2 linked regions of the Homo sapiens genome follow. The protein of the gene in region 1 purifies or fractionates together with the protein of each later gene. This does not show direct contact. Each region holds a gene or a part of one and is shown on either strand. Other genes may lie near its edges.

Region 1 (2,715 bases):
TTAGATGCAAAGCGTAGATTTGCACTCTGGCTAAGGCACTGAATGAACACCACTGTGGCCCTGGGACAAGGAGCTGTGGTCCGTCTGGGATCAACTAGGTGGCGAAGGGGAGGGAGAAAGGAAGAGAGAGGGCTTGCGCGCGGGAGAGAGGAAGGGACGGGAGGGAGAGGGAATGGAAGACAGGAAGGGTGTCCCTTCTCAGAGGTCGCACTTTGTCAGCAGTTCCTCTCGACTGCTCTGCCTTCCATTTTTCCTTTCCTCAGTTCCTGGACAAGCCTCGGAGGACCAGGCAGAACCCTCTGGCTAGCAGAAAAGCTCGCACCCCCGCACCCTTGCGGCGTCTGCTTCAGACCCTCCACGCAGGCGCCCGCTGGAGCGCCTGCTGGGGATGGCGTACCACCGACCCTTCAGGCTTTTTAAAAACGTAAGAATTTCTACTTTATTATCTCTATGAAAAAAAAAATGTAAAGAAGAGAGGTTAGATTTTATAGAAGCTCCAAAGTCTGCCATTTGCGAGGAGGGTTCACTTCCCACCCACCCAGCCCACGGAAGCTCTTAGGAGCAGCCTGAACGGCCCCGACTCAGCCTCACGCTCTCTGACTTCCCCGCTCGCCCCTGACCCCGACTTCACTTAGGGCGGTCGCGTAGATATGAACTCTACAGCAGCCACTCTGCTCAGCGCATGTGGGGATCTTACAATCTCGACCCCGACCTCCAGAAGACCAGACGTTCTGTCTTGGGGCCTCCCTCCCGGCCCTTTAGCCTCACCCAGTGCCCGGTCCTGACACACCCCAGCACTACCAGACGAGGAAGGGCAGACTCTCCACACCAGGCTCAGCCGCTTTCCTTCTTCTCACAGCTCTCCAAGAGCTCGGTCATGAAGGAGATATAGACGATGGCCAGGCGGAGGGTCTCGATCCGGGACAGCCTTTTCTCGTAAGCAAACGTGGGCACCTTCCTCCGCAGCTGGTCAAAGGCCTCGTTGAGGTTGAACATCCGCTTCCTTTCGCGGATGTTGGCGGCCTGGCGCTGGGCGTAGGTGATCACCCTTTTCCTCTTGGGGCGGCCTAATAGGGAGACACCTCTTCCGCGCTCCTCTTCCTCCTCCTCTTCTCCGTCCCCCTGGTCCACTTCGCACTCCTCTTCTTCTGGGTCCCCCTCTTCAAACCGCGCCATCCTCCTGGGTCTTCCCTCTCGGAGCGCAAGGGCTGGGTCCCCCAAGGAGACCCCGGGTGCGAAGTCGCAGAGGAGAGGGCGTCTCGGGGAGGCCAGGGACAGGTCTGCGACGAAGTCCAGCACCGTAGTGTCCACGCAGCTCTCCGGATAGGCCGCCATCGCTTCGGCTTGGCCCTGCCTCTCATCGGTTTTCCGCAGGGAGGGGCGAGGTTGCTGGTGGGGATTCTTAACAGCCTTGAATCTGATGGGGCACCATCACCGAAAGGCCAGGGAACATTAAATATTTATAACCAAGCTGATAACAGGATTAGTCGCACCGATAAGGAATGCTCTGACAACGTCCCTTCTCTCGAAGCTTATGGAAGATGACAAGCTTGAGCACGCATGGAAGACTCAAAGGGACAGGGCTCCAGTTCTGAGATCCTTTTCTCTGCGCCACCCGGGACAGTTCCTTGTTGGCAACAACCCCCAGCTCTTACCTGCTGTGCTTTTTGTGTCTGTCTTCACCCCTGCAGCCAACTAATGTTCTCCAGGCTCCTTATCTCGTGTAGTTCTTTAATTTCGTGTTGGATTTTCAAAGCGAGGATGTTTTCCACCGCGATGGCTTCTCCTTGACTTCAGGGTAGGAGTCTTGAATCTTGCCACCATCTGCCAATGGATGTGGAGCAAGTGCATGTGCTTTTAATGATGTCCTGAAGAGGGGCCCTGCCTGCCTGGCATCAAGGGGAGCTGTTTGTCTGGTATCCCAGTGCAGCGGCTGCTGAAAGGCAAGACCTTCAATTAGCTTAAGTAAGCATGGCAGGGGGACCGAGAGTGCATTCCCCAGAGTCGCTGTTGGAACCGGCTTTCTTTTCTTTCCAGGGCATCGCAAACAGCTCTCCTGCCACGTTACAAACCCTGACTTCTAAAGTCTGTTTGGATGCAATCAGCGTAACAATTGAGATACTTGACTTTCCTTTCCCTACCTTTACCTCCTACTCATATAAAATAGAGGATTTTATTCCAAGAGGAAAAGTTATGATGGCAATAAAATGAGAAATTTAAGCTCAGGATATTTTCTATGCTCGGGCTTTGCTGTATACTTTTCAGTGTGGGGGACAAAGCAAACTCTCCTCACAAACAAAACCACTTCAAGCTCTTTTCAGAAATGCGATTTGCCCTTGATAAGCCAAAGAGTCAATCAGCTCACCCTCTGCTGAGGAGTCTTCGGACTTTTAAATTGCGGATCGAGTATTTGTTCCCGAACAAAGAAAAAAACCTAACACTTCCATCTGGCGTATTTTCCTCATTGATTTGTATTGTCCTACAGTAAGACTTAAGTGCAGAAACAATGATTTATTGAAATATATTTAAGGGAGTTTTTGGCTATCGTTAGATCGTTATTTTTGAGAAAAGAAAGAGATTTTAAATTTGGCATAAGAAAAATAAGAGATTACTCATTTTATATTATCTCGAGTATCCCAAATATTTTAACAAAAAGGTTCTTTTTCTTTGTTTGCCAATAACTATATTTACTTAATTATTCAGTACTGTGTAAAG
Region 2 (4,286 bases), on another chromosome or scaffold:
CCTCCCAAAGTGCTGGGATTACAAGCATGAGCCACTGCGCCCAGCCATCCATATGCTTGATACCCAACTCTTGCACGCTAACACCAGAAGCATGCGTTCAGTCTACCTGCTGGGCAATCCAGCTCCAGAAGGTCTGAATCAGAGCTGTAGGATGGGGTTTTCAGGACCATAGTGCACACTGGGCTTTGGGTGGTAGGCAGGGAGCCCGTCCAGCTCTGGGCAGGGGGGTGGTACAGTGGACTATGGAAGCTGAGTCACATTCTAAGGAGAGAATCAAGAGCTCCCTAAGTACCTTGCCACTCCAAGCCTCAGTTTTCTTATCTGTAAAATGGAGGTAATAATAGTGGCTAAATAAAGCCACTATTATTAGAAGCTTAGAAGAAACGATACAGATATGTAAAGTAGTAACAGTGTACTCTGTTATCCACTCCACAACTATATATTGAGTGGTTACTATGTGCCACGGAGCAGTTCAAGGCCCTCAAGATAACCCGTCTCTACTGAACAAAACCAAGAGCTCTTCACAGACGTGGTGTGGAGTGGAGTGGCTGTTAGCTTAGTAGCCGTGGGAGCCATACTGCCTGGGGTTGCATGACTAGCCGGGTGATCTTAACCTAGGTACTTAATATCTCTGTGCCTCAGCTCTTTTGTGTTAAATAGGTGAGTAATGGTATCAACCTCATAGGCCTGTGTGACAGTGAAGCGAGGTAATGCACAGAAGGCGCTTAGAGGAGTGCGTGGCTCAGTAGTGTTAGGTGGGGGTGGTACCCAAAGGTAGGGCCTCCCCATTGTCTAGTGTCCTCAGGGCTCTCCAGCCAGCGAGGCTGGCAGCAGCGCCCCCGGCTGGTCCCGAGAGAAGGAAGGGCGTCCTCCTCGGTTCCCAGCGGCGCTCCCGGCTCCTCTCCTCCCTGCGGACGGGGAAGCCTCGGTAACCGCTGTAACTGCTCGGGGAAAGGAGCGCTTCCCTGGCCGGGCTCGGCGCGCGCACTGTACCCGGCCGGGATCGTCACATCCAGGGCTCAAACAGCCTTAAGAGGCCGACGCGGTTACTGTCTCCATTTCACAACGGGGGAAACTGAGGCTCCGGGAGGTCAGGTTCCTCATCCCACACCACGCAGCGAGGGCACGGCGCGACGTGGGGCCCGCGGCTCTGCCTGTCCCCAGCCTCCGCCTGGTGGCCGGCAGCCCGCCCCAATCACTGCGGCGTGTGCGCGCCTGTTCCCAGCACGTGTGCGCGCCCCGAGACCCGCCCCGGGGAGCCAGGAGCGCGGTCGGGGTCGTGGGGGCGGAAAAGGGTGGCCAGGGCGGACCCGCGGGGCGGGCAAAAGGGCGGACCTTGGGCCAGGCCCCCGCCCCGCCCTCCGGCCCCGCCCGCCGGGCTGCAGGGGGAGGCGGCGGCGGCTCTGGGCGCCGGGAGTCGGCGGGCGGCGAGGAGCGCGGAGCCGGAGCTGGACGCCGCCGCCGCCACCGCCACCTGCGCGGCAGTCATCAAGGTAGGGCGGCCCTGCGCCGCCGGCCGTGCCTTCCCGGTCTGCGCGATGGGGGCGTCGGGCGGGACGTGCGCGCTGCGGCTGCAGCTCCCGGAGAGGGAGGGATGCGGGGCTCGGAGCGCGGGGGACCTGGCTTTCAGCCCCTTTGCGTGACCTTGCACAAAGCACTGCTCCTCTCCAGGCCTCAGTTTCCCCGTCAGGATAGCTTGCTCATTGGTGGCCCCCTTCTCGCGGGGTTGTTGGGAGGGGCCGCCTCGAGGTCCGGGCTCCCGACGGCTCGCTGCCCTCATGAGCACTGTCTGCACCGCCCACCCCTCCTGCCCGCGGTGAGGGAAGCTCACTCTGGGCGCGGCCAGCCGGTCCCGACAGGCCCCTGCTGTGGCCCGGGTGCTCCATGGGACTCTTGTCGGGACCCTCCCCCTCTTGGCTGCGTTACCTGCTGGGCCTCAGCTTCCTGGTACAGGAAACGGTGGGGTGGGGGGCATCCCCGGGTCCCCGCCAAGCCGGCCTGGGCGTGCATGTGGGGCATCAGCCGGCCCGCCAAGAGGGTTTACTCGTCTGGGGCTGGAGGAGCCCTAGGTTGGAGGTGGCTGGACTCCTGGCGGCACGACTGCCTGGACCAGCCCCACGTAGGCACCTCGATTTAGAGAGTGGTATAGGATAGCTCCTTCCCCTTCCCCACCCGGGCCAGGTGCTGGTGCCTAGCTCTGTGTCCCAGAGCTAGTGTGTGATAAGGTGTGACACACACTAGCTGGTGTGACAAGGGGTGACTGGCGGCCACGCCTGGACCTCAGAGGGGTGACAGTGCCAAGGTGCTGTGTCCGCGTGGCATTAAGGGATGGGGCAGAGCACAGGTCTGAGGGACTGTGGTCCCAGGCTCCCTAGGTAAAGAAGACCTATGGCATCTGGCCCAGCCCCTCTGTAAGATCCCCTCTGGAAGGTCTTGCTGCCCCCTTGCACACTCCTTGTGATAGGAATCTCACTAGTTGTAAACCAAGCTGGAATCTGCTACCCAGTCACTGCCTCTCCTGCTGGTCCTGCTCTGGACACACAAACAACCTCTGACCCTTCCTCCCTCACCCTGGGGCAGTGGTCAGGTCCCTTAAATATGCTCATCTCCAGACCCAGCAGCCCCAGGCCCAGCAGTTTCTCCCATCAGATCCCAGGGAGCCAAGGCAAGAAGAGGGAGCCGAGGTGTCTGCCCTGGAGCAGGCTGTGGGGCCTCCGCTTTCCTGGGGCTTGTTCAGAACCCACCTGTGCATCAGGACTGGAATGTGTCTCCCCAGCTTCCTGCCCCTCCTGGGGACCGTCTGAGAGGTCCGGAGTGAGGAGAGCCGGAGCCCCTCTGCAGGCCTTTCCTGCCCCATGGGGCCTCTTCTCCACCTCCCTGATGCCTGCCCTGTTTGAGGGAGCAGTTTCTAGGAATCACTTCTCAGCCTCCTGGTCTTTCTTGTCCCCTTCATGACCTGCCCTGCACCCAGGGATTTTCTTAACAGCCAAAAGAGGGCAGGAGGCCCCTGGACAGGTAGTGAGCTCTTTGTCATCACAGGTATTCAAGCAGAACCTGGGGGTGAGCTACCTTGGACTGAAAGTCTATGGAATTCTAGGGCTGAAGTAGTGCCTATGACCTTGCCCTGCGGCCATGGTGGAGCTGCACAGGACTGGGAGCTGGACCACAAATGAGTGTTATTATCCCCTCGTAAAAGCAGGCAAAGTATATGTGCTGGCCCATGAGCCCAGCTCCGACGCACAGGCTTAAGTGCTACCTGGGTCTCCTGTCATCTCGACACATGTATAATCTGGGCCCTGTTTTCCTGCTTGCCTAATTCAAGCCTTTTTGGCCTGATTTAGGAGCATGGCAGATTCTGGTTATTAAAAAGTCATGCTATGACTTTAATTGCTAATACTTTTTAAATGCACCATGGAATCATGGAATGTCTGAGCTGAAAGGAGCCTTCAGACGTCGTCTCATTCAACCCCCTCATTTTACAGATAGGCATCCCCTGTCGCCAGAGGGGATGTGACTGGGCAAAGGTCACACAGCAAACCAGCAACCGAGCCCAGGGATCCTGATTCCAAGATTGGAGTGCCTTTTTTTCTCCAAAAAAACACATAACATATAATAAATGAAAGCAGTCTGTATTTATTCCTGTAAAATTAGCAAAAATAAAAATAAAAAGATGAAACTCTGTGCTGGCAAGGCTATAGGGATTCGCCTGTGGCATTTAATTTTGCAGAGCAACCTGGCAGCCTGTTATCATGAAAATGATCATATTTGCCCTTTGCCCTTAGCCGGCTACTTTGGGGACTTTATCCTAAGGAAGTAACTAGGGAGAGAGACATATGTAGTGCTGTTATTTGTAAGAAGTTGTCTTCTGGCCAGGCACAGTGGCTCATGCCTGTAATCCTAGCACTTTAGGAGGCCAAGGTGGGCGGATCACCTGAGGTCTAGAGTTTGAGACCAGCCTGGGCAACATGATGAAATCCTGTCTGTACTAAAAATATAAAAATTAGCTGGGTGTGGTGGCACATGCCTGTAATCCCAGCTACTCGGGAGGCTGAGGCAGGAGAATCACTTGAACCCGGGAGGCAGAGGTGGCAGTGAGCCGAGATTGTGCCACTGCACTCCAGCCTGGGCGACAGAGCGAGACTCCATCTCAAAAAAAAAAAAAAATAAAGGAGTTGCCGTCTAGTGAAGAAGTGTTCAGTTTTATCTGAGGCTTAATAAACATTTCATTTGACAAATACAGCTTAAAAAATAGTGGCACTGAAGCTTACATTACCGGAGTCTGGCCA

Evidence for each region.
Region 2: the proteins of FERD3L (region 1) and CORO2A purify together in Homo sapiens (affinity purification with mass spectrometry; one large-scale study listed by BioGRID and IntAct). This does not show direct contact.

What each region holds. Positions count from the first base shown.
Region 1 is NC_000007.14:19,144,028-19,146,742, forward strand, and holds FERD3L (fer3-like protein), read right to left. Parts: upstream 1,395-2,715; 5' UTR 1,336-1,394; coding exon 835-1,335; 3' UTR 755-834; downstream 1-754. UniProt on the Homo sapiens protein: Transcription factor that binds to the E-box and functions as inhibitor of transcription. DNA binding requires dimerization with an E protein. Inhibits transcription activation by ASCL1/MASH1 by sequestering E proteins.
Region 2 is NC_000009.12:98,189,766-98,194,051, reverse strand, and holds the start of CORO2A (coronin-2A), read left to right. Parts: upstream 1-1,414; 5' UTR 1,415-1,493; intron 1,494-4,286.